7 linked regions of the Homo sapiens genome follow. The protein of the gene in region 5 interacts with the protein of the main gene of each other region in a pairwise test. Each region holds a gene or a part of one and is shown on either strand. Other genes may lie near its edges. The genes, in order: PARP15, SPAG4, GORAB, SLC39A2, NRM, CPLX4 and GOLT1A.

Region 1 (3,500 bases), on a different chromosome or scaffold from region 5:
TCACTATTCCAATCTAAATGATTTCCTATCTTTTTTGAAATCTATACCAACTAATATTTGTATATTTAACAATGTCTTTTGATTATTTTGAATTGATTTAAACATTACAACAAGGTTACTTTTTTTTTTTTTTTTTGAGATAGCGTCTTGCCTTGTCACCTAGGCTGGAGTGCAGTGGCGCAGTCACGGTTCACTGCAGTCTCAACCTCCTAGGCTCAAGCAATCCTCCCACCTCAGCTTTCCAAGTAGCTGGGAATACAGGCCACTAGCTAATTTTTTTTTAATTGTAGAGACAAAGTCTCACTGTGTTGCTCAGGCTGGTCTTGAACTCCTGGGTTCAAGTGATCTTCCTGCCTCATCCTCCCAAAATGCTGGATTACAGGAGTAAACCACTACACCCAGCCTATTTTTTTACATGTTAATATATTGCTTCCCTAAACTGTGTAGGAATCAGTAAATGGAGAGTGAAACTGCAAGTGGGAGTGAGGAGAACATGGGCTAGATCTAATTTTGTTTTGTTTTGTTTTGTTTTGTTTCTTGGATGGCTTGCTCACTCTTGTCTCTGCAAGGGGCTTCTCAGATATTGAGATTAGTTTATGCTAACTTCATATAATACCTCATATGCTAACTAACATTATATAAGTGGATCCAAGAATGCCGATTATTAGGTTGAGAAATATAACCTATTATATGTCCCAGAGACATAGACATCTTTTAATTTACAATGAAGAAGAGTTCCCCAAAGAACCAGGACATTAAAAATCCACATGATCAGGCTGGGCTCATGCCAGTAATCCCAACACTTTGGGGGGCCAAGGTGGGCAGGTCACTTGAGATCAGGAGTTCAAGACCAGCCTGGCCAACATGGCAAAACCCCATCTCTACTAATAATACAAATATTAGCCAGGCATGGTGGCACATGCCTGTAATCCCCGCTACTCAGGAGGCTGAGGCATGAGAATTGCTTGAACCTGGGAGGCAGAGGGTGCAGTGAGCCGAGATCATGCCACTGCACTCCAGCCCTGGGAACAGATCGAAATCGTGTTTAAAAAAAAAAAAATTAAAAAAAAAAAAGGCCACACGATGAGAGTGTTTGTCTCCTCTTACTCCCAACTTACCAGGGAATCAGAAGGTTTCTGGTGAGCACAAAATCTGAGTAATAGGAGTTATGAGTTGAATATGTAACATCTCATGGCATTAGGCTATGACCCTCACTTCACCAAAGGAACAGCCTTAGCATTGACACTGGAGAACTCAACATCCCTGGACAGGCTAGAATGGATACTGCCTACCCTCACCTTAGTGACTTTCCTTTGCCAAGGCCTTCAGGGCCGACCATACCCTCCTTCACATTGACCTAGTCTTTCTTTTGGTATATTGTTAAATTCAAAACAAGTATTCTCAGTTCCTGCCAGGCTGAGAGCAATTCTTTCTCCCTTCCCCTGTCTCTCTGTCTCAATCTTTCTGTGTTTTTGTTTCTGTCTGTCTCTGTCTCTGTTTTTCACTTTCATTTTTCTTCTTTCTCCATTTCTCTCTCTCAGTCTTCGTCTCTGACTCTCTGCCTCTGGTCTCTGACTCATTTTCATAGCTCTACTCTGACTCATTACGTGTTGATTTCACAGCAGTGGTTAATATATTTCCTTAATGTCTAAGTTTTGGAAGTAACCTCATCATGGTGTTTCAGTGCTAACAATAGACTGTAAGCTCCTTGAGGGTGGGGCTGACATGTTAGTATGACAGGCAAAACATATCTGTACATTACCCCACAATACTTAGTAAATTTACAGTTGCTCCATCATTATGTATTATTGATTCAATCTCTAACTGTTGCTATTTTCGTTAAGGCCGATGTCATTGTCAACAGCGTTCCCATGAATCTTCAGCTTGGAGGAGGACCACTATCTCGGGCATTTTTGCAGAAAGCTGGTCCCATGCTCCAGAAAGAGTTAGATGACAGAAGGCGGGAAACAGAGGAAAAAGTAGGTAACATATTCATGACAAGCGGCTGCAATCTGGACTGCAAAGCTGTGCTCCATGCTGTGGCTCCATACTGGAATAATGGAGCAGAGACTTCTTGGCAGGTAGGGAACGCTCTTAGTTCTCCAACGTATTGGGTGGCTTTGGGAATCTCCTTCTGGTGTGGTATAGATCTGTGCTCAAGGGAAGCAATTTTGCCCCACAGAGGACAGTTGGGTTGTTACAACTGCTGCTGGTATCTAGTGGGTAGAAGCGAGGGATGCTGGTAAATATTCTATGATGCACACACCAGCCCCCACAACAAAGAAGTGTCTGCCCTAGGCTGTGAAACCCTCGTATTGATTGAACCCTGTCTATCTATTGAAATCTTTATTACATTCCATGGAGAATTCATCACAACTACCAGTTATTTCCAAGTAATTGACCCTTGGAGGTAGTAACATTCATTGGGATTCTACAGGAGTGGTGTCTAAGTTGTAATGTAATAATCTTTCAGTACAGCAAAGAGGTGCGCCCAGCACTGTGGTGAAGAAGAAAAAAGAGTCAGTGCCCTTCTTTCGATAACATCATTCCCACCTCCACTACCAGTTTAATTTCCCAACTTTTTTTCAGAATATAAAAAAGTAATACAAATACATTGTGGAAAATATAGAAAAGTACAAAAAGACAATAAAAATAATAATCCAACCACCAAGAGATAACTGTTTTCTTCTTCTTCTTTTTGAGACCGAGTTTCGCTCTGTTGCCCAGGCTGGAGTGCAGTGGGGCGCCATCTCAGCTCATTGCAACCTCCTCTCTGCCTCCCGGGTTCAAGTGATTCTCCTGCCTCAGCCTCCTGAATAGCTGGGATTACAGGTGCCCACCACGGGGCCTGGCTAATTTTTGTATTTTTAGTAGAGACGGGGTTTCACCATGTTAGCCAGGCTGGTCTCAAACTCCTGACCTCAAGTGATCCACCCGCCTCAGCCTCCCAAAGTGCTGGGATTACAGGCATGAGCTACTGTGCCTGGCCTTAAGAGGTAACTTTAGTTAACATTTTACTATATTTCCTTCAAGTCAACTTTATGACTTTATGCATATTTATTTATTTATTTATTTATTTTTTGAGATGGAGTTTTGCTCTTGTTGCCCAGGCTGGAGTGCAATGGCACAATCTTGGCTCACCGCAGCCTCCGCCTCCCGGGTTCAAGCAATTCTCCTGCCTCAGCCTCCCGAGTAGCTAGGATTATAGGCATGTGCCACTACACCTGGCTAATTTTGTATTTTTAGTAGAGATGGGATTTCTCCATGTTGGTCAGGCTGGTCTTGAACTCCCGACTTCAGGTGATCTGCCTGCTTCATCCTCCCAAAGTGCTGGGATTACAGGTGTGAGCCACCACAACTGGACAGCATATTTATGTCTTAGTTGAGATTCTCTTTCTCTCTCTTCTTTTTTTTTCTTTTAATTGAAACAGGGTCCCACTCTATTGCCCAGGCTGGAGTGCAGTGGCGCGATCTTACCTCACTGCAACCTCCACCTCCTG
Region 2 (2,766 bases), on a different chromosome or scaffold from region 5:
CCATCCCAAAGCAACCAGCTCCCAGAGGTCCCGTCCACCTGTAAAAGCAGCCCGCAAGCCTCGCCCCTCCAGGCCTCGCCCTCCCTCCTTGCAGAGAGTGGCCAAGCTCGTGTTCCAGAGGCTGAATGAGGATTTTGTGCGGAAGCCCGACTATGCTTTGAGCTCTGTGGGTAAGACCCGGAGACACTGGAAGACAGAGACGCAGACAGGAAAGAGGCCAAGACACTGACACAGACAGACCCATGCACCTGACCGGCCGAAGACAGAGCCTCGGACAGCCCCCACCCGCCCCCAGCCCCCGCGCCCCCGCGCCCCGACTCCCGGCAAGGCCTGGGAGCCTCTGAGGGTTACTTCTCACTGTTCCAGGAGCCTCCATCGACCTGCAGAAGACATCCCACGATTACGCAGACAGGAACACTGCCTACTTCTGGAATCGCTTCAGCTTCTGGAACTACGCACGGCCGCCCACGGTTATCCTGGAGGTGAGTCTGGAAACATCCCGGGATGGGACCCCGGGCGGGACGCTGGGAAAAGCACCAAAACCCCGCCCTACAGGCGGAGCTTGGCTGAGCCGAGGGCGTGGAGGATGGCGTTTAACTCAAGGAGAGACCTGGCATTGCTGGGGACTGGGGCGGGCTGGAGGTGGAGCTCTGGGCGGGTCGATGGATGGGGTCGAGCTGAGGCCCGGGCTGGGGAGCGGCAGCAGTCGCTCTGTCCGACGGTTCCGATGGTCCCTCCGCCCGCCTGCAGCCCCACGTGTTCCCTGGGAATTGCTGGGCTTTTGAAGGCGACCAAGGCCAGGTGGTGATCCAACTGCCGGGCCGAGTGCAGCTGAGCGACATCACTCTGCAGCATCCACCGCCCAGCGTGGAGCACACCGGAGGAGCCAACAGCGCCCCCCGCGATTTCGCGGTCTTTGTGAGTGCGGACGAGGTCAGGAGGTGGGGGATTTTGCCTAGAGAGCCCAAGCAGTCTTGAGAACTGGTGCCGTTATCTGAGTCTTCGCTTGCTCATCTATAAAATGAAGATACTACTATTTGCCTCTCAGAGCTGCTGTAGGTTATAGTCATAACCATATCCAGATATTAGTTATTGCTTGCAAAGCACTTACTCCGTGCCAAGCAGTTTACAGGCATTCTTATTTTGCTGTTGTTTTTGAGACAGTCTCGCTCTTGTCACCCAGGCTGCTGGAGTGCAGTGGTGCCATCTCAGCTCACCTGCAACCTCAGCCTCTAGGATTCAAGCGATTCTTGTGCCTCATCCTCCCGAGTAGCTGGAATTACAGGCGTGCGCCACCATGCTCGGCTAATTTTTGTATTTTTAGTAGAGATGGGGTTTCACCATGTTGGCCAGGATGGTCTCAAACTCCTGACCTCAAGTGATCCGCCTTCCTCGGCCTTCTGAAATGCTAGGATTACAGGCATGAGCCACCGTGCCTGCTTTGCACCCACATAACAACCTATGATGTACTGTTATCTCCCCCTTTAAAGATGAAGAAAGTAATGCTCAGAGAGGGGAAGTTATTTTTCCAAGGTAATACAACTAACAGTTGGCAGGATTAAATTTAAAACCTGGTTTCTTCCCGGGAGGTGGAGCTTGCAGTGAGCCAAGATCTCACCACTGCACTCCAGCCTGGGTGACAGAGCAACACTCCGTCTCAAAATAAATAAATAAATAAAACCTGGTTTCTTAGAGCCCACATTCTGAATTACAGTGTACGACCATCAAAAAATACATGAGAACATGCATATAGCTATTGAATACACAGAAGATCCTCAGCAAAGTTTTCTTCTCCCCGCCCCCCCCGCCCCACCTGTCCCCCTCATAGTTCCTCCTTTCATTCTTCACCCACCAGGGCCTCCAGGTTTATGATGAAACTGAAGTTTCCTTGGGGAAATTCACCTTCGATGTTGAGAAATCGGAGATTCAGACTTTCCACCTGCAGGTGTGTTTGTCTCTAGGGTGAAGGTGCCAAGGGAGTGGGGCAGTGAGGGATGAATGATCCAGGAGGAGGGCAGCCCTTGGCATGATCCATTTGTCTCCCCAGAATGACCCCCCAGCTGCCTTTCCCAAGGTGAAGATCCAGATTCTAAGCAACTGGGGCCACCCCCGTTTCACGTGCTTGTATCGAGTCCGTGCCCACGGTGTGCGAACCTCAGAGGGGGCAGAGGGCAGTGCACAGGGGCCCCATTAAACATGCTGATTTTTGGAGTAGAATTGAGTTCTGCTGAAGGATACTGGATCAGTGCTTTCGGGGGCTCTGTTGGGAGAGCTCTGGCTGCCGTTGCATCTAAGTATGGAGGGGCTGACTTCCCAATGCACCCTCTTTTCTTGGAGAAGTCTTGATCAAGATCGTAATAGCAGCTCCTGTTTATGGAGTGCCTACCACGTACAAGAAACAGTGCTGTGGACATTACACACATTACCTAACTTCATTCTCACAACCAGAAAGGGAAGCTGCTCAGGTCAGGAAACTTGTTCAATGTCACACAGCTAGTGAAAGGCAGTGACAGAGCAGTACCCAGGCCCACCTTCCTCCAGAGCCAGTCCTCTAACTGCAGAGCTGCAGGCAGCCTGAACCCACCTTTGTGCTCAATTCCCAGCCCCAGTGGGAAAGTCCCCAACTCCTGCTAGGTACCGGTGGAGGGGTAGCTACCCACCTTCTGCAGGCACACACTCAAAAGCTAAGGAGACTTGATAACCTCTAGGAAGCTTCTGAGTCACAGAGCTGATGCAGGCCTGGTAGCCCCTACATAGGTTGTCTTA
Region 3 (4,276 bases), on a different chromosome or scaffold from region 5:
TATTAGGGCTATTTGTTACTTTAGCTTAACTTGTCTTAACCTGATTTCATAAATACCAATACCTCTGAAATTCCCTCTCCCTGATCACATTCCCACGCCTCCCCACTATATACAATCATACGTCACTTAACAAAGGGATACATTCTAAGAAATGTGTTGTAAGGCAATTTTGTCCTTGCGCAAACATCAGAGAGTGTATTTACACAAACCTAGATGGTACAGCCTACTATATACTTAGGCTATATGGTACAGCCTTTTGCTCCTAAGCTCCAAACCTGTACAGTATGTCACTATACTGAAGACTGTAGGCAACTGTAACAACGGTATTTGTGTATCTAAACATAGAAAAAGCATAGTAAAAACAGGGTATTATAATATTACCAGACCATCACCATATATGTGGTCCGCTGCTAACTGAAATACTGTTATTGAGTGCGTGACTGTATATATTATATATACAGCTAGCTGATCCTTGGTATATGAGGATAATTGGTTCCAGGATCCCCATGTATACCAAAATCTGTGCATACTCAAGTCCCACAGTTGGCGCTGTGAAGACCACATACACCAAAAGTTGGCCCTCCATATACTCAGGTTTTGCATCCCCCAAATACTGTATTTTTTAAATGCACATTTGTGTATAAGTGAACCATCACAGTTCAAACTTGTGTTGTTCAAGGGCCAAGTGTAACTACATATACTGTATTAACAAACATTTTAATGCATGTGGCTACAGTTAATACTAATATATTCCCACCAGCTGTACAGTAGCCCGCTAGATGAGTATACCACAATTTATTTATCCATTCCCTTGTTAATGGACACTTTGGTTGTTTCCAACTTCTTAATATTATAAACAAGACTATTAACAACTTTCTTGACTATGTTCCTCAATGCCCATACAGGGGTCTCCAGAGTACTACTGTCCTTATTTTTCCTGGCAACCAACTCCATCTTCCTAAATTATTCAATAAATTTTTAAAGATAGAGAACAGCTAGAAATGGCTTTAAAATTAAAGGGCCAAATCCTCTAATTTTACAAATAAGGAATCCAAGGAGAAAAGATTTAGAGGAAGAGCTGGAAGTTCTATATGCCAATCACTGTGTTTAGCTACGGGTATACAAGGAGGTTAAGATATTTTCCGTCCTCGAGGTGGTCACGGACTAGCGATTTGGTTTCCACACTACAGTGGGCCTTGAAGTTCAGGTCCTCACCATCCTCTATCTACCCCCGGTTGCAAAGATATTTCAAAATATACTTCTACATAATGAATATGTTGTTTAATTTAGATTTTTATATTAAGTCATCTTTACCCTGGAAAATGCGCCTCTGCTAACACACAAACTTTGTGAAATCTTCCCAAGCTCCATCCAATCCCCGGCAGAGTGAGGTTCCTCTTGTCTCTGAAGCAAGTTCTTGCAATATCTACTATCACATAACTTTGTGGTTTGTCTCCTCATGAGTCTACTGGAGTCAGACCAGAGGCCAGGGCACTTGTACCCTGTATATCAAAGTATGTGAATGGATGTTGAAAACACAAAGCAAAAGAATTTGAGTATATCAAGCAACACAGAGTCAGTTAACTACATAGCTTAGCCTAACCTTTATGATAGAGTTTTTAAAGTCCCCTGGACCAGTCAAAATGTCCCCAGTCGATATAATCTACATTGGCCCTATCTTACTAATTTACTTCTTTTCCCACTTGTCTGCCCTAGATTATTCTCATATTTATGCTAAAAATGCACAAGCTACCAGAGCAACATCCAATTTCCCCACAAACGCTAACAAAAGGTTTACTTCATTTGCTACCAAAATAAAGTATTTGAATTAAGGTACCAAGAGTGATGTACACTTCTTACAGAAATTGTGTGTACTACCACGATAACCATACAGATCACTGCGAAATTTCAACCACAAGCAAAGTGCAATTAATATTACTAAGTTTTCCACCAACAATCAGCAAACTTAATTCCTTCCACAACAACAAAAAAATTGTACAAGCCCATTCAATGATTACTCTATAAAGCCAGAGAGAGAAGCACAAGGTTAGCTTACTCCAAAGTCAGTAAGACTGTATGTATATAAACATATAAAGTCTTCACATCTACCCTCTCAAAGACCCTTTTGGTTTGCTGATTCTCAAAAATTGGGAAGTACTGCAAAAATCATCTGGCAACCAGAAGTGAATGCAACACTCCAGATGAATTGTGAAAAGTACCGAATTTTTGCCTTTATTCAGACGCCTGTGCTCCTTTTTTCCAACCATCTGCTTCTATAAATTCATCACAATTCTAATACGGTGTGCGCCCCTCCTCCTTCCCTTACCCTGACCCTAACCTTCCAACCGTTGATTCCTGCAGCAATCTTCCCTAAGGGAGACACCCCGGCTGTAGGCTCACTTCCTCTCCCAAGTCCCATTCCTTTCACAAGAGTCAAATCCCTACAGTGGATTCCTGGACCGTTTTTTCTAAAAGAAGATCCCAGTCCTCTGGCTTGCCCCTCCCGTCGTGACTCCCAGTAAGTCCTCCTCTGAAACCCCCTAATCCAGTCCACGTACTTACAGCGCCTTCCGCTAACACAAACGTAGCCGCTTCCACGCCCCCTTTCCCCGCCAAAGCTGCATCCCCGCCTCTTCCCCTTAAGACCCAAGAATTAAACCACTGTAAACCCATCTTGTAACCTTTAGTCTGCTTTAGTCTCCTCAGTTCCTCCTCAGAGAATCCTGCCCAACCTTGCGCCATCGGCCCGGGCCACCGGCACCCCCAAAAGTGCCCAAATCTCGCAGCCGCGACTGCCAACACTGCTGCCCAGCTCATCCGGGTTTTTCCCCGGCCGCGGCCAATCAGTGCATCGGGCTCCAAACACAAGGCCCTCTCTCCCCGGCCTCAGGGTCCGGCTTCCTTCCAGGCTGCCTTCAGCAGTGCCTGACAAACTGCCTAAGGAAACCTTGCCACGCAGACATTCGTTTCCTCTGGCTTACCTCTACTCTCTCTCTCTCTCATTGTTTCTCACTGTTGCTGGTTAATCGCTTCAGGAGCTAAGGGGGGAAATGGCGATGGGGATAAGGGTGGAGATAAACAGGTATTTGGGAAGGAGCAACAAGTCGGTGGCGGAAACGGGAGATCTAAGTGCCTTTGGGGTCCTGTACCTGTGGGGCGGGAGCGGTGCTCTCTGTGGCTCTTAGTGTGCCCTAAAATCCTTGTGTTTTGCTGGGAGTGTGCACAGCGCTGGAGGCCTCCTTCAGATTAACTCAGGAAATGATCAGATTTAGGATTTTGATGATGAAGAAACATTTAAAAGGGGTGGGGTATAATTGATGAAAAGGGAACAGGCATAACCAGGTCTCTCGCAGGCCGGAGCGGCTCTCAGATTTCTTTTGCTTTGGGTTGTTTCCTTTGTGAATAATTATAATATGTAACTTTCCTCTTAAGGGATTTCTTTTTCTTTTTTTCTTACTTTTTTTTTTTTTTTTTTTTGAGACATAGTTTCGCTCTTGTTGCACAAGCTGGAGTGCAATAGCACGATCTCGGCTCACTGCAACCTCCGCCTCCCGGGTTCAAGCGATTCTCCCGCCTCAGCCTCCCGAGTAGCTGGGATTACAGGCGCCGGCCACCACACCCGGCTAATTTTCTGTATTTTTAGTAGACACGGGGTTTCACCATGTTAGCCAGGCTGGTCTCGAACTCCTGACCTTAGGGTATCCGCCCGCCTCGGGCTTCCAAAGTGTTGGGATTACAAGCGTGAGCCACTGCGCCCGGCCGGGATTTCTTAGTCTCCCCTTTAAATCTGTTTTTCAGAGAAGACATTGTAAAACGTCGGTGCTGGGGGATGGGAAAGCATTTCTTAGGATCCTGCCTGGAATCCTAATACCGTAATTCGGGTTCTGCCTTGAACACTAACCTGAGATCCCATTTCCTCATTTGAAATATGGTTGCAAAGATTAAAAGATGCAAGCGTTGTCAAAATACACATAGATAAGGATGATTCAAGAGAGACCTAGTTATACTATTTTTCATGGTTCTCTTTCACTATTTTTGCAGTAAGAACAACAAAACACCTCATCTTGGCTTACATTTTAAAATACTTTGGCTTTAGTGTGTTGATATTTTTAAACAAAATGAAAGAAAGGAGTAAAGTACAAAATAAAACACGTCAAGAAAAGTTGAAATGAGTACTTCAGATTTAGTAAGTGATAAAAAGTGAAGGATGTTTGGAATTTCCCATGTAAATCCGAGCTTTTAAAACTTAAAGTGGTTTCTGAAATTTGGGGATGCT
Region 4 (4,280 bases), on a different chromosome or scaffold from region 5:
TGCTAAGAAAATAGAAGAACAGGAAGAAAAGTTGCCAGGTTCAGACATCCCAGGGAAAAAGAAGCGTAAACAGCATTAGCAATCAGTGACTGATGATAATGCTGCAATAATGGGAATGGTTTTATTTCTAAATCAAATCGTTTATTGCTTTGTTTCTAAAAAACAAAAAAAAAACTTCTACCTGCAGACCCCTAGTTTAGATTAATTAGGAAACATTCCCGCAGGTAGTCATAGAGCTTGAATTGTATATAAAAGCTAAAGAAAAGCTTGTAACTTTGAGTTGGTCTGGTGTGCTACTCCGACCTCCCTGTAATCAGTTGCAGAAATAAACTCCCGTCTTTCCCAGTCTGTCTGTCTGCATCTCATTACCGGACCACAAGAACAAGCAGCAGGACCAGTAACACTGTAAGAATCATCCAGTAACACTGTAAGAATACTGCTTCTACCAGAGGCCAGGACTTCCCTAGGAAAATAATCTGGAGTAGCAAGGAAAGCTGCCTCCAGAGCTCTGAGAACTGGCTCAACAGGTCTCAGGGTTGTTATGTGGGCCACCTGAATAGGGGAATCAGCAGCTGCCTGGCCTCTTGTACTAACGCCTTCCCTTCTGTCTTTCCCAGGGTCCCTCAGCTACCCTAGAGTATGTATGGGAAATGCCCCAGACATTTCCATCAAGAGTGATTCCCATCAGAACTGAATCTTCTACCCCCACCTCTCTATATCCAGGTAGAATCCTCCCATTCACTCAGTTCATTTCTGTTTTCCCCTAAGCCTTGCTGTTTCAGGGCTAGAGCAGCTTCCTTTGTCTTAAACCTTAAATGTCTTTTTTTCCACAGTTCTTACCAGGAAACAGGCACAGTTAGAAGTTGTAACAGTATAAATGTTGTAATACCAGACATCTCAACTCATTCCTCTCAAAACTGATCCCAATCAAAAGAGAAAGAAAAAAAACAAATCAACTTACCACTAGACATTTCCATGCCTGGAGCTATTTTTCTGGGGTTACAGGAAAGGGTAGTTCCCTCATGTGGGTACTAGTTCCCACAGAGTAGCACCAGCACCACCTCTCAGCCCCACCTCTTTACCTCCAGGTGGCCCCAAATCTCTGAAAGCGGGTGGTTCAAGTATCAGCATTGCAACCTATAAGACTTGGGATGAGGTGGAGAGGGTATGGAAGGCTTAGATCAAACGTCCTGAGTGAGACAGGACCAGATTGTCCCCAGTACAAAATAGCTGGGAAGCAGCTACCATAGACTTTCCTATTTTGGATTAGACCAACCCCAAGCACATGAACTAAGACTATCCGTAGCTCTTGGATTAGTCATGCCATTGAAGAGGAGGAGAAGACGCCACTGGGCTGTGCCTGGCAGGGAGTCTGGAGTTTCTGGTTTCCAAGCTCAGGAAGGCGTGAACCAGGGGAGGGGCCTCCATGCAGGGGGAGGGCTAGAAGCTGGGGCAGGATCTGTCAGCTCTGCAATGCTGCAGAAGCAGAAGCAACACAGAAAGAAGATACCAACAGCCTCCTGAAACTCACGAGAGTGGACACTCCAGTGTTGACCACCTAAGATACCACTCCTGCTCCAAAGATTACAGCTCCCTTGTCATTCTGACTCCTGGGCTTACCCTACACCCCAGAGATGGAGCAACTACTAGGAATAAAACTTGGCTGCCTGTTTGCCCTGTTGGCTCTCACTCTGGGCTGTGGCCTTACTCCCATCTGCTTCAAATGGTTCCAGATTGATGCAGCCAGAGGTATAGCCCTACCCCATCTTTGTTCCATAGCCTGAGTCTCACCTCAACCCTGTCCTGATACCTTGCTCTGATTCTCTCACCATCCCCAACCTTGGGATATTGAGTGCTGCCTGCTGCTCTTTACTCACCTTTGTCTGTCTCCTCAGTGTCAAGTGGGTTGTAACTTCTGCTTTTTATTAGGTCATCACCGGCTAGTCCTCAGACTCCTGGGCTGTATTTCTGCTGGTGTTTTCCTGGGAGCAGGGTTCATGCATATGACTGCTGAAGCCCTGGAGGAAATTGAATCACAGATTCAGAAGTTCATGGTGCAGGTGAGAGCAGAGATTTCAAGCCGCAGGTCTATGAGGCCAAAATGATAAACAGGACAAAGGGAAGAGAGCGGGAAAGTGATGGAGCCAAGGACATGGGTGGAACGACAAGGAAAATGACAGCTCTTGTGTGGGATGGTGAAAGCAAGTCAGATTAGGCTTTAAGGAAAACAGAATTGCTGAAGGGACAGCACAGGAAGCTGTGCTGCTCCATCCCACATCTAATTTCTGCTGCTTTCTTCTTAGAACAGATCAGCAAGTGAGAGAAATTCTTCTGGTGATGCTGATTCAGCTCATGTAAGTACCTCCCACCATCCCCTATCTGGAGAGTGAGGAGAACCAGAGAGGCCTTTCATATCCAGACCCTTTTGAGAGGAATACATGAGGAGTACCAAGAATCCCTTCTGCTCCCTAGCTCAGACATCGTAGAGGAAAAGAGGAGCAAATCCAATCCTTTTGAGTTTATAGAATGCCAGGGAAAGCCCTTGTTTTACTCTTTCATTCTTTCCCTGGATCCTCTGATATACCTCACATCATTTGCCCATGTTTTTAACTCTATTGAGATTCTGTCCCTTAGCCCCTCTGGCAGTCTTTTGTTGTTGTTGTTTTTCGTTTGTTTGTTGAGATGAAATCTCTCTGTCGCCCAGACTGGAGTACAGTGGCACAATCTCGGCTCACTGCAACCTCTGCCTTCCGAGTTCTAGTGATTTTCCTGCCTCAGCCTCCTGAGTAGCTGGGATTACAGGCACGTGCCACCACACCTGGCTAGTTTTTGTATTTTTAGTAGAGACGGGGTTTCATCATGTTGGCCAGGCTGGTCTCAATCTCCTGACCTCAAGTGATCTGCCCACTTCAGTCTCCCAAAGTGCTAGGATTACAGGCATGAGCCACTGTGTCCGGCCCACTCTGGCATTCTTGTTGTTGCATGGCCATGTCTACTCTTGGCTTCATTTCCCCTACCCTTTTTTGTGTTCTGTTACCACATTTTCTCATTCTCTTCAATCTCCCAATTCCATGTCCATCCAATGTATTGCCTACCCTTCCTTTCCATCTCACAGCCCTTCTTTTTGTTTCTAGATGGAGTATCCCTATGGAGAGCTCATCATCTCCCTGGGCTTCTTTTTTGTCTTCTTTTTGGAGTCGCTGGCATTGCAGTGCTGTCCTGGGGCTGCTGGAGGATCGACAGTGCAGGACGAAGAATGGGGTGGGGCTCATATCTTCGAACTCCACAGCCATGGACATTTACCCTCACCCTCAAAGGGTCCCCTCCGAGCCCTTGTCCTCTTGCTGTCACTCTCCTTTCACTCAGTGTTTGAAGGGCTAGCTGTGGGGCTGCAGCCGACAGTAGCAGCTACCGTGCAGCTCTGCCTTGCTGTCCTGGCTCATAAGGGGCTTGTGGTGTTTGGTGTAGGAATGCGGCTAGTGCATTTAGGTACCAGCTCACGATGGGCAGTGTTCTCCATACTATTATTAGCTCTCATGTCCCCCCTGGGCCTAGCCGTAGGGCTGGCTGTGACTGGAGGGGACTCTGAAGGAGGGCGGGGCTTAGCCCAGGCTGTGTTAGAGGGTGTGGCAGCTGGTACCTTCCTGTATGTCACCTTCCTAGAAATTCTTCCACGGGAGCTAGCTAGTCCTGAGGCCCCTCTAGCTAAGTGGAGCTGTGTAGCCGCTGGTTTTGCCTTCATGGCCTTTATTGCCTTGTGGGCCTGAGAGATTCCTGGCTTTTCTGATGGACCTATTTAGGACAACCTCTCTATCCCCAGGGAGACCTCCCAAATGGCTTTGACCCTCAGACATTTCTTTACTCAGACTAAATAGCATTCAGTAGGACTGGACTGGACCCCAGGTTTCCTTTACATGAGATCCCATTTCTCACCCTGGACTAAGACAAAGATATTTAGGTTGAGCAGCTATTAATTGGAGAATTGGTACAGAGACGCTCCAGATTTTATTCTTATCCCATTTATGCTACTGTGTGTAATAAAATGCCCATTTTACCCTCCTTCAGCCATTCTGGATTTCATTTCTCCTGGTTGCCTAGATGCTACCTGGCACAGGAAGTGGTGGAATGGGGAATGGGAAGGATGAGTGTTGAATGCAGTATTTTATTCTGGAATTAGGGCTCCTAGCCATCCTGTCAGTTGCAGCCACACCCCTAGACATGGCACCTTGCTAAAATTCCCCTCCCACCTTACCCACTGTAGTTGAGAAAATGAGCCAGTT
Region 5 (4,003 bases):
TTTTTTTTTGAGATGGAGTCTTGCTCTGTCGCCCAGGCTGGAGTGCAGTGGCGCGATCTCGGCTCACTGCAAGCTCTGCCTCCCGGGTTCACGCCATTCTTCTGCCTCAGCCTCCTGAGCAGCTGTGACTACAAGCGCCCGCCACCGCGCCCGGCTAATTTTTTTTGTATTTTTAGTAGAGACGGGGTTTCACCGTGGTCTCGATCTCCTGACCTCGTGATCCACCCGCCTCGGCCTCCCAAACTGCTGGGATTACAGGCGTGAGCCACCGCGCCCGGCGAGAGGACTTTCTCAATAAAAACTGTGACTTTCATTGATACCGTCCATTTGGGACAACTTACTGAAGCAGAAAGCAGGGTGGAGACTGAATTCAAGGGAAAACATAAGATGTCTGGTACAGCATACAACAGCATTGATTCAGAGGAGGGTGGGAGTACTGAGCCCAGGAGACGGAGAAGGAATGTAAAGCCTGCGAGAGGCTGCTCAGCAATTATCTGGTCCCTTAGCCTACAGGATTAGCAGCTTCCTAACTCAGGCAATTATCTCTCTGGACCTGTTTCTTCTATCTATAAGTTGATGGAATTAGTCTAATGATATCTAAGGTCCCTACTATGTGTACGTCTACTGTGACAAGGTCCTTAGCTGCATGATCTTTAATTCTGACAAAGGTTACTATCACAAATATTTTAACATGTTTATTCTCGTGGTTACTAATCAACAATCTCTGGCACTATTACAACAAACCTTTCAGTATTTACAGAGAAGTTATTTGCCATTCTTAGCAACTGGCCAGTCAACAACTCAACTTTATAGTAAGTTACAGAATTTATTCTGTATATTGTATTCTGTACAATGTATTCCATACATTAATTTATTTTGTGGTAAAACAGTAACTTTTCATTTTAGATGGGAAAACTAGACGAGCTGAGATTCAACCCACGTGAGCGGCTGCAGAGCCGCTACCCTTAACAGCTCTCTCTCGGGATTCTAACATTCCCTTCTGTGACGGAGAGACAGCAGGCCGGGACACGCATCCCAGGACGGATCCACAGCTGGATGGGGAAGGCTGCGCCAGGCGGGCCGGAAGCCTGGCGGTGGCGTGCAGGAGCCCCGCCCTCCTGGGCTGGATTCAGCCGGGGGCGGGGCCGCGGGCGGGGCCTGTGGCAGCGGGAATCCCGACCCCGCCCCTTTCCCCACCCCTCCATTTCTCGCCATGGCCCCTGCACTGCTCCTGATCCCTGCTGCCCTCGCCTCTTTCATCCTGGCCTTTGGCACCGGAGTGGAGTTCGTGCGCTTTACCTCCCTTCGGCCACTTCTTGGAGGGATCCCGGAGTCTGGTGGTCCGGGTGAGCGGGAGGGATCGAGGATGAACTGGGAGGAGGAAGGTGGAGCCGTAGGAGAGGGATTGAGGGCGGGGCTTGGAAACAAATGACAGGGGAAGTCCAAGAGAGGGAACTCGAACCTTGAAAGCGGCCGAGAAGCTACAGGGGAGGGAGACCTGAGTTCTAAATTAGGAACTCAAGGATTAGAGTTTTGGAGAGGCGGGAGAGTGAGGACTGAGGGAGCCGAAAAGGGCGGTGACCGGAGTATTCTAAGTAAAGTGTTTTGTAGAGAGGACTGTTGAGAGGAGAGTGTTAAAAAGAAGGAGCATTTGGAGAACCGAAGTAAGAGGGGCAATCCAGCGTGGCCTCTCCAGCCATGCTTTTTGCAACTGCCTAACATGTGGTGTTCTATAAATCCTCTTCCCCAGGTTTGCAGGAGGCCTAGGGAAGAGGGCAGAAACTAGGGATGGAAAAGTGAGATGGGCACAGCCTAGAGAGGAAGCATTAAGGCTCTTGAAAGCAGTAAGGGACATGGCCTGGGGATCCAAGAGGAGATGAGGGTGGGGGAAACATTCTGCCACTGTTTCGATCTTTTGTCTCTTTTTCCCTCAACTTCCTGTAGATGCCCGCCAGGGATGGCTGGCTGCCCTGCAGGACCGCAGCATCCTTGCCCCCCTGGCATGGGATCTGGGGCTCCTGCTTCTATTTGTTGGGCAGCACAGCCTCATGGCAGCTGAAAGAGTGAAGGCATGGACATCCCGGTACTTTGGGGTCCTTCAGAGGTCACTGTATGTGGCCTGCACTGCCCTGGCCTTGCAGGTATGAGGCCCTGGCCTTGCAGGTATGAAATCCTGGCAGTTGAGTCCCCAAGGGAGACCAAGTGTGGGAGGGGTGCCGTGGATTGGAGGGGCAAAATATGGGTTCAGGAGGAGAATTGAGGAACTAATCTCAGCTTCCATTCCTCCACAGCACATATCCTACTTTTTATCAAGAAGGGTGTACTTGTCCTTCCCTAAGCACAAGATATGCTTCTCACCTCTGCAACTTTGTTTATGTCCTGCTTGAGATCCCTTCTCTTCAGTCCTACCCTTTCTTCAAAACCACTTCCCTAGGTCTGAAGAGAAGGCCTTGTCTGTCTTTTCACTGGGTGGTTGGCACAGGCTACTACTTTGCGTAGCTATCAGGTCACCCCATCTATTCTATAAGTTCTCAGGGTAGAGACAGGCCATCCTTACATCTTTGGGACCTCACCCAGCACGCACCCTCCACATGGTGAATATTTGGTGGTGATGCTTAGGAGAGAGGTGGGGGAGAGTTGCAGGCTAGCCTGTGGTGGGGGCAGATCTGGGTCTGGGTCTCCCAAGGTCGGGCAGACTAGGCCACTGGGATACCCAGCCCCTTATCCTTCCACAGCTGGTGATGCGGTACTGGGAGCCCATACCCAAAGGCCCTGTGTTGTGGGAGGCTCGGGCTGAGCCATGGGCCACCTGGGTGCCGCTCCTCTGCTTTGTGCTCCATGTCATCTCCTGGCTCCTCATCTTTAGCATCCTTCTCGTCTTTGACTATGCTGAGCTCATGGGCCTCAAACAGGTGAGGCTCCGAGATCCCTACCTATGACCTCTGACCCATTTTAGAACTCCTCGTTCCCTTTCAAGGGTTTCCCTCCTCCCATGCTCTTCTACTGTCTCCCTGCTTCTCCCTCGTGGCCCTTCCCTTTGACTTTCCCTCGTAAGGGCAGCAAGCATGGGCCTCCTGGGCCTGGGGAAGGTACATGGATCAGAAGTCAGGATCAGGGATCCAAGTCTCAGAAGGGGGGTTCCTGGGCCTGAGTTCTAGAAGGGTGGTGCCTGGAAGAGGAGGAAAGAAGTGCCCAAGATGAGAAAAGGGCTTGACTCCATTTCTAAGCTCTTCTCCCTCTCTTAGGTATACTACCATGTGCTGGGGCTGGGCGAGCCTCTGGCCCTGAAGTCTCCCCGGGCTCTCAGACTCTTCTCCCACCTGCGCCACCCAGTGTGTGTGGAGCTGCTGACAGTGCTGTGGGTGGTGCCTACCCTGGGCACGGACCGTCTCCTCCTTGCTTTCCTCCTTACCCTCTACCTGGGCCTGGCTCACGGGCTTGATCAGCAAGACCTCCGCTACCTCCGGGCCCAGCTACAAAGAAAACTCCACCTGCTCTCTCGGCCCCAGGATGGGGAGGCAGAGTGAGGAGCTCACTCTGGTTACAAGCCCTGTTCTTCCTCTCCCACTGAATTCTAAATCCTTAACATCCAGGCCCTGGCTGCTTCATGCCAGAGGCCCAAATCCATGGACTGAAGGAGATGCCCCTTCTACTACTTGAGACTTTATTCTCTGGGTCCAGCTCCATACCCTAAATTCTGAGTTTCAGCCACTGAACTCCAAGGTCCACTTCTCACCAGCAAGGAAGAGTGGGGTATGGAAGTCATCTGTCCCTTCACTGTTTAGAGCATGACACTCTCCCCCTCAACAGCCTCCTGAGAAGGAAAGGATCTGCCCTGACCACTCCCCTGGCACTGTTACTTGCCTCTGCGCCTCAGGGGTCCCCTTCTGCACCGCTGGCTTCCACTCCAAGAAGGTGGACCAGGGTCTGCAAGTTCAACGGTCATAGCTGTCCCTCCAGGCCCCAACCTTGCCTCACCACTCCCGGCCCTAGTCTCTGCACC
Region 6 (3,374 bases), on a different chromosome or scaffold from region 5:
CCTAAGTGGTAAAAGAATCTCAGCTGAGTATGGGGGTGCATACCTGTAGTCCCAGCTACTTGGAAGGCTGAGGTGGAAGGATTGCTTGAGCCCAGGAGGCCAAGGCTGCAATGAGCCCAGATTGCACCACTGCACTCCAGCCTCGGTGAAAGAGAGAGACCCTGTCTAAAAAAAAAAAAAAATAAAGGAATCTCAAAGACCAGGCAGCATGCATTAAGAAATTCTAGAACAGACACTCCTAAAATCACAAAATGAAATGTGCAAGGCGCTTGTGACAGCGTCAGCAACACCGAAGGCTAGACTGCCAGTATGCTGAGTGGCGGCCATGCCCTTGATGGTTCACTTAATACATGTGTACTGTGTGCTAGACTCCAGTCCAGGTGCTAACGGTGGAAAGTTGAATCTGACAAGAGCCCATGACGGGCTCCCTGTCTAGTGGAAGGGAGGAAAAGAGCCATGATTAAGAAAAAGTTGCCACTAAGGTGTGATGAGTGAATTAATGCATACTGTCTAGTTACTATAAACTGAGACCTCATCCTCTACAGTGGGGTCAACCAGGTGAGTGGGTCTTGGCATGGGGCTGATAGAATCTGCAAGACTTGCAAAGCTGCCCTTAGGCAGAGTTGGGGTGTGATGCCCCAGCTTTTGTGTGTATCAGCATCACAGAGAGAAAGACATTCTTAAAAATCCAGATGGGGTTGGGAGTGGTGGCTCACACCTGTAATTTCAGCACTTTGGGAGGCCGGGGTGGTTGGATCGCCTGAGGTCAGGAGTTCGAGACCAGCCTGGCCAACATGGTGAAACCCCGTCTCTACTAAAAATACAAAAAAATCAGCTGAGTGTGGTGGTGCACACCTGTAATCCCAGCTACTGAGATTTACTGAGGCAGGAGAATTGCTTGAACCAAGGAGGCAGAGGTTGCAGTGAGCTGAGATCGAGATACTGCACTTCAGCCTGGGCAACAGAGCAAGACTCCCTCTCAAAAAAAAAAAAAAAATTCCAGATGGCTGGGCTCCATCTCCAGAGTTCCTGATTCAGTGGGTCTGGGATGGGGCCCAAGAATTTGTAGTTCCAGCAGGCTCTAGATGATGCTAATGCTGCTTGTCCAGAGACCACACTTGGAGAACCACCATGCTGGAAGGTTCTGATCGACGCAAGGTGCCATGAAGAAAGGACCCCCCTACAGAAGCCCCCACAACTGCCATCAGGACCAGGCTCTGCTGCAAGGCCAAGAGTGCCACTCACTTCCTGTATTCTCTAAAGACCTTTTCCTGCTGCTTTTAAAATTTATTTAGTTAGTGAGTTAGTAGTTTAGAGTTATTTATCTATCTCTATTTATTTTTCACATAGAGTGAAATGGATGAGAATCAAATCCAGATGGCTGGAGATGATGTGGATTTACCTGAAGATCTCCGGAAAATGGTAGATGAAGATCAAGAAGAGGAAGAAGATAAAGATTCTATTCTTGGGCAGATACAGAATCTCCAGAACATGGACTTGGATACCATAAAAGAAAAAGCCCAGGCCACCTTCACTGAAATCAAGCAGACAGCGGAGCAGAAGTGTTCCGTGATGTGAGGGGTGGGAGGGGTGGAGGGAGGGAACCAGCCATCCTTGGAAAAGACCACTCTCTTGTGGGACGTTTCAAGCAGTACATGTTTTAATGTAGTGAACACAGTTAGGAAAACCACGATGATCCATTGACAGACAATAATTTGGTTGTTCTAAATATTCCTGGCAGAGCATTTAGCTAACACCTTGCAGCGGGAACCTTACTTTCCTTTTAGTTATAAATGAGATAAACTGGAAAATTTCAGTTGTAAATGATGATGCAGAACACATATCTGCTTAAAGACCTTGAGATGAGCCAGGAAGAAACAAAAGCAAGGGGCATTTCCTCTCCAACTTTCTTCCTTGGAGGCCAAGTTCTCACCCTGTCCAACTATTCGCAGGACACCAGGTCCCTTCAGAGAGAAATGTGGAGAGTCAAGGTGTCTACTGGGAGCCGGGTTTCCCACAGGGAGCTGAGTCTACAGACTCCAGGGCAATCAAAGGTCACCACCCCCACCCCTCACCTCTAGGATCCTTGAATTTGTCAATGATACTCATCAAGTATGCTTGGATCCTTTGGTCCTTGGATGCTTCTCAGCCAAGTGGCGGTAGCACAGATGTGGTGAACAATGACGAATTGAGGCAGGGAATAGACCTCACTAGCCCTTTGCAATGGAGATCATCGTTCTAGTGGCCATGTGAAGAATGGAACCAAGGGAGGCACAATTAGAGGCAGAGGGAAACCAGGCAGACGGCTGCTCTTTTTGAGTTGAGCTTAACTCTCCTTGTCTGAACTTGGTGATAGCAATGGGAACAAAGTGGGTAGACTAACAGAGAGCATTAAGAAGTTAAATCAATCTCTCTCTGTCTCCTCCCAACCTCTCTCTCTCTTTCATCCCCTTCTCTCCCTATCTCTCTTTTTTTTTTCTTCTCCTGTCCCTTCCCATCCCACCCCTTTAGACTACCTTCCAGTAAATCACACTGTCATTTGGTGCCACAAGCTTTCAGGGTAGACACTGATTTTTCCCCCCTAATATCTGCTCTCTTTCAAAAGGAATAATTCAAAAGACTTAGGACAATTACCACTGAAACACTTCGAGCTATTTAGCTAAAGCCCACCAAACCAAAACAAAATACTGATTTTTTTTTTTTTTTTTGGTGACTCTGTTCATACAGTGAATAAAGATCTATCAAAGGAAAAGGAAACTGAGACCGAAAACTTAGGGTCTAAGTTGTTCTAAACCCAGGGTTCTCAAATGTGTTGTACAAAAAGTTTCATGTAATAAAATTAAGCAAATAAAACAAATGAATAGAGGTCCAAAACCTATGGTCCTTGGCAAAGTTTAATCTGTCTTGGAAATTCCTGGGAGAACATTGGTGCAATGATTGAGGCTGATTAGCCTTCTAGTCCACAAACCCAGATGCCATGGGCACATTTTAAAACTGTGCTTGTCTTTTATCAGAAATGGCATGTGAGTTGTGATTTGTTTTATAGCAGAAACTTTAAAAAACTCACTTTTTTAAAAACTACAATATAATAGATAACATTTATTTTCAGTTTAATGCCTGACTCTGCCCTGTAGTTGGTGAGGTGGGTAGTATGGATGGGTGAGAGGTGCTGTATGTGGCCTGATATCTGTACACTTTGTATGACATAAAATACTACAGCTGCCAAATTGTTCCACACTCTAGCCTCAGGATGACAAAGAAGATGTGCTTTCTTGTAAAAGATGCAGCCAGTTCTGCTAAGGAAATCACTAAATTGGCACTTCCTCTTGACTGCCAACATTACTCCAATGCAATTTGGTCGTTGTCTCAATGAA
Region 7 (3,500 bases), on a different chromosome or scaffold from region 5:
TTCAGATCGCTCCCCTCAAGACGATTTGTACAATAACCGGATATATAGTTCCTTTTTTCCTTAACCCTCTCCAGCACTCAGAATTGTTCATTTTACTTATCTTTGCCACTATGATAGTCAATAAATAAAAATTCATTCTGTTGCTTTGTTTTTAAATTGTTACCTTTTTAAGTTTTAAATTGTGGCAACGTGCACATAAAATGAGACTTACCATCTAACCATTTAAAAATGTACAGTTCAGTGGTATTAAGCGCATCTCCTGAATTCTTCGTCTTGCAAAGCTGAAACTCTACACCCATTAAACAGTAGCTCCCCATTCCCCTCCCACCAGCCTCCAACAACCACCATTTTACTTTCTCTATGAATTTTTGACTACTCTGGGAACCTCCTATAAGTGGAATCATACAATATTTGTCTTTTTGTGACTGTCTTATTTCACTTATCATAACGTTCTCAAGGTTCCTTCATGTTGTAGCATGTGTCTGAATTTTCTTCCTTTTTAAAACAGAATAATAGTCCATTGCTATCTGTACCCTGCATTTTGTTGATCCATTCATCTGTTGATGGACATCTGGGTGGCTTCCATCCATCTCTTACCTATTGTAAATAGTGTTACCATAAATATGAGCATAAGAAAATATCTCTTCAAGACACTGCTTCCGATCCTTTCAGGTATATACCCCACAAAGTGGAATTAACGGAATTATACTGGATCACATGGTAATTCTATTTTTAATTCTTTGAGGAATTGCCATTTTGTTTTCCATTGTGACTGCACCATTTAACATTCCCAGCAACAGTACACAAGAGTTCTAATTTCTCCACATCTTGCCAATACTTTATCTGTTTTGTTTTGTTTTGATAGCAGCCATGCTAATGGGTATAAGGTAGTATACATTGTGGTTTTGACTTACATTTCCCTAATGATTAATGATTAATGATCTTTTCATGTGCTTGTTAGCTATGTGTATATCTTCTTTGGAGAATTGTCTAGTTAAGTCCTTTGCCTATTTTTTAAACAGGTTGTTCTTTTTGTTGTTGAGTTGTAGGAGTTCTTTATATATTTTGGATATTAACTATGTAGCGTATGATTTGCAAATATTTCCTCCCACTCTGTAGGTTACCTTTCAGTCTGTTGACTGTGTCCTTTGATGCGGTGAAGTTTTAAATTTTGATGTAGTCTGATTGATGTCTTTTTTTTCTTTTGTTGTCTGTGCTTTTCATGTCATAACCTAGAAATCATTATCAAATCCAGTGCTGTAATGCTTTCCCCTATTTTTTATTCTAAGAGTTTTATAGTTTTAGCTCTTATTTTTAGGGCTTTGATCTGCTTTGAGTTACTTTTTGCAGATAGTATAAGGTAAGGATCCACCTGCATCTTTTGCATGTGGATATCCAGTTTTCCCAGCACTATCTGTTGGAAAGACTGTTCTTTCCCCATTTCATGGTCTTGATGCCCTCGTCAAAAATTTTACTGGACTTGTTAGAATCAGTTCTCATAACCTCTATGAAATTGGTATTATTATTATGCTTTTGCAGATAGTTGTTAAAAGTGAGGGGAAAAATTATTCTGGTGTTTAGAGGCAGAATTGTAAAAACAAAAACAAAATTATCAAGACTAGATTTACTGGCTGAGTTTTATTTACAACTGAAAGAAAATGAAACAACATAATCATCTTCTGGGTAGTTAATCCATCATCTGTTGCTATGCAGATTTTAAGAGGATTAGGATCAATTCCAATACAGAAAAAAGGTCAAAGAGCTTCTTTAAAAGAATCATCAAAAATACAGCAATGAAGCCAGGTGCTCAATGGCTCACACCTGTAATCCCAGCACTTTGGGAGGCTGATGTGGGTGGATCACTTGAAGTCAGGAGTTCAAGGCCAGCCTGGCCAACATGGTGAAACCCCGTCTCTACTAAAAATACAAAAATTAGCTGGACATGGTGGCATGCGTCTCTAGTCCCAGCTACGTGGGAGGCTGAGGCAGGAGAATTGCTTGAACCCGGGAGGTGGAGGTTGCAGTGAGCCGAGATTATGCCACTGCACTCCAGCCTGGGTAACAAGAGCAAAACTCCATCTCAAAAAAAAAGAAAACAGAAAAATACAGTGATAAGATCTAGCATTCAAATTATAGACTGAAACCTTGCTCAACTCATAGTCTGGTATCATGCCAGTCTTACTGGATCTCACTTTTGGCAGAAGCTGGATTTTGTTGGGACCCAGTGTAACATAATTTCTCTCAACATATCACCCAGCTGCCCAGAATCCATTTTCTACTAAAAGCTGATTCCTTGTGTTCCTGACAAGCCTCGTGATCTATTTGGGCTTGTTTCCTACTTCTACCTCCTCCTGCTGGCCTGAATTAAATCTCTTAGAAGCTGGGACAGCTCAGCAGAATATCACCCCCATGGGTCATGATGAAGGTTGTGTTTTGTCAACATTTCCATCCTCAGAGACAACACATTGAGAATCTAGAGTTACATCTACCTGAATTACCAAGATAATTTCGTGTAGGTCAGAATATTGTGGAGGAAGACCACAGTCATCTTTCTTTAACCCAAATGATAAAAGTGTTTTAGGTTTTTATGCTTGTTATAAAATATCTGTTGTTGGCTTATGCCTGCCATAAAAACATCTGTCATTGATTTCAGCTCTGACTATACACCCTTTCCTCCCCCTCAGTAGGTGTATTTGTGTGGAAACACGATGTGCACATTTTACGGGGTTTTCATTTCGTTTTGTTGAACTTTCTATATGTTCATCCTGCACACACTTAAGAACAGCCTCATACTCATTTTGTGGAAACAGCGTAAGTTTCTCACATTCACACATGATGTCCATTCTCCTGTTTATTCCTTCTTCTTCTGCAGCAGTGATTTGCTGGCTGCCATAGTTATCCCTCCTCCACCTGTTCTACACTCTTCTTTAAGGGCAGATGCAATTCCAGGACTCTCCTGTGATGGGGGCAGCCTTCTTTATGGGCCACACTTAGTGCTCTCAGTGCTCAGTGGGACACGAAACCCCACAGAAAAGGGTCAGAAACTCTGTTTCTCACACACAAGCTTCAGACCCGCCTTTGCCTCTTGCTTCTGGAGTAGCTTAGCTATTTTAGTCAAGTTATCCAGCCAGAGGTTACTCCTAAAGTTCTTTTCAGGCAGCAACCATGGCAGAAAGAGTGGAGGGGTGGGGATGTCATACAGATGCCCCCAGGAGTGACAGGTGTGCCTGCCCGGCACGGTCCCCGTGATCCAGACAGATTGGGCAGCGCGCCCTCTGCTGGAGGCGGCCAGGGCTGTCACGCCTACACCCAGCCGAAAAAAGCTGGGAGGCCAAGGTAACTTCAGGGAGGCCCGGCTCTCCAGGCGCCACCTAGAAGTGGAGACCTCCCCAGACCTCAGAGACCAGCTTTAGATCTCCCTGGCAAGGTACACTGATGGCTGCACTGGTGCCCTTGTTTAGCTCCTTGCTCTGCAACTCCCGAGTTGCTGCCAAGAAGAG

Evidence for each region.
Region 1: the proteins of NRM (region 5) and PARP15 interact in binary tests that used the Homo sapiens proteins (3 or more experiments, as listed by UniProt).
Region 2: the proteins of NRM (region 5) and SPAG4 interact in binary tests that used the Homo sapiens proteins (3 or more experiments, as listed by UniProt).
Region 3: the proteins of NRM (region 5) and GORAB interact in binary tests that used the Homo sapiens proteins (3 or more experiments, as listed by UniProt).
Region 4: the proteins of NRM (region 5) and SLC39A2 interact in binary tests that used the Homo sapiens proteins (3 or more experiments, as listed by UniProt).
Region 6: the proteins of NRM (region 5) and CPLX4 interact in binary tests that used the Homo sapiens proteins (3 or more experiments, as listed by UniProt).
Region 7: the proteins of NRM (region 5) and GOLT1A interact in binary tests that used the Homo sapiens proteins (3 or more experiments, as listed by UniProt).

The regions. Positions count from the first base shown.
Region 1 is NC_000003.12:122,608,650-122,612,149, forward strand, and holds part of PARP15 (protein mono-ADP-ribosyltransferase PARP15), read left to right. Parts: intron 1-1,844; coding exon 1,845-2,081; intron 2,082-3,500. UniProt on the Homo sapiens protein: Mono-ADP-ribosyltransferase that mediates mono-ADP-ribosylation of target proteins. Acts as a negative regulator of transcription.
Region 2 is NC_000020.11:35,618,829-35,621,594, forward strand, and holds the end of SPAG4 (sperm-associated antigen 4 protein), read left to right. Parts: intron 1-94; coding exon 95-170; intron 171-366; coding exon 367-482; intron 483-750; coding exon 751-918; intron 919-1,855; coding exon 1,856-1,945; intron 1,946-2,047; coding exon 2,048-2,194; 3' UTR 2,195-2,266; downstream 2,267-2,766. UniProt on the Homo sapiens protein: Involved in spermatogenesis. Required for sperm head formation but not required to establish and maintain general polarity of the sperm head. Required for anchoring and organization of the manchette.
Region 3 is NC_000001.11:170,530,690-170,534,965, reverse strand, and holds the start of GORAB (RAB6-interacting golgin), read right to left. Parts: upstream 2,801-4,276; 5' UTR 2,743-2,800; coding exon 2,682-2,742; intron 2,519-2,681; exon of another isoform or gene 2,357-2,518; intron 1,503-2,356; exon of another isoform or gene 1,315-1,502; intron 1-1,314.
Region 4 is NC_000014.9:20,997,813-21,002,092, forward strand, and holds SLC39A2 (zinc transporter ZIP2), read left to right. Parts: upstream 1-1,480; 5' UTR 1,481-1,634; coding exon 1,635-1,749; intron 1,750-1,929; coding exon 1,930-2,060; intron 2,061-2,303; coding exon 2,304-2,354; intron 2,355-3,134; coding exon 3,135-3,767; 3' UTR 3,768-4,059; downstream 4,060-4,280. UniProt on the Homo sapiens protein: Transporter for the divalent cation Zn(2+). Mediates the influx of Zn(2+) into cells from extracellular space. The Zn(2+) uniporter activity is independent of H(+)-driving force, but is modulated by extracellular pH and membrane potential.
Region 5 is NC_000006.12:30,688,185-30,692,187, reverse strand, and holds the start of NRM (nurim), read left to right. Parts: upstream 1-1,203; 5' UTR 1,204-1,213; coding exon 1,214-1,346; intron 1,347-1,357; exon of another isoform or gene 1,358-1,844; intron 1,845-1,944; coding exon 1,945-2,141; coding exon of another isoform or gene 2,142-2,163; intron 2,164-2,717; coding exon of another isoform or gene 2,718-2,735; coding exon 2,736-2,912; intron 2,913-3,245; coding exon 3,246-3,527; 3' UTR 3,528-4,003.
Region 6 is NC_000018.10:59,294,902-59,298,275, reverse strand, and holds the end of CPLX4 (complexin-4), read left to right. Parts: intron 1-1,350; coding exon 1,351-1,578; 3' UTR 1,579-2,874; downstream 2,875-3,374.
Region 7 is NC_000001.11:204,203,989-204,207,488, forward strand, and holds part of GOLT1A (vesicle transport protein GOT1A), read right to left. Parts: intron 1-3,500. UniProt on the Homo sapiens protein: May be involved in fusion of ER-derived transport vesicles with the Golgi complex.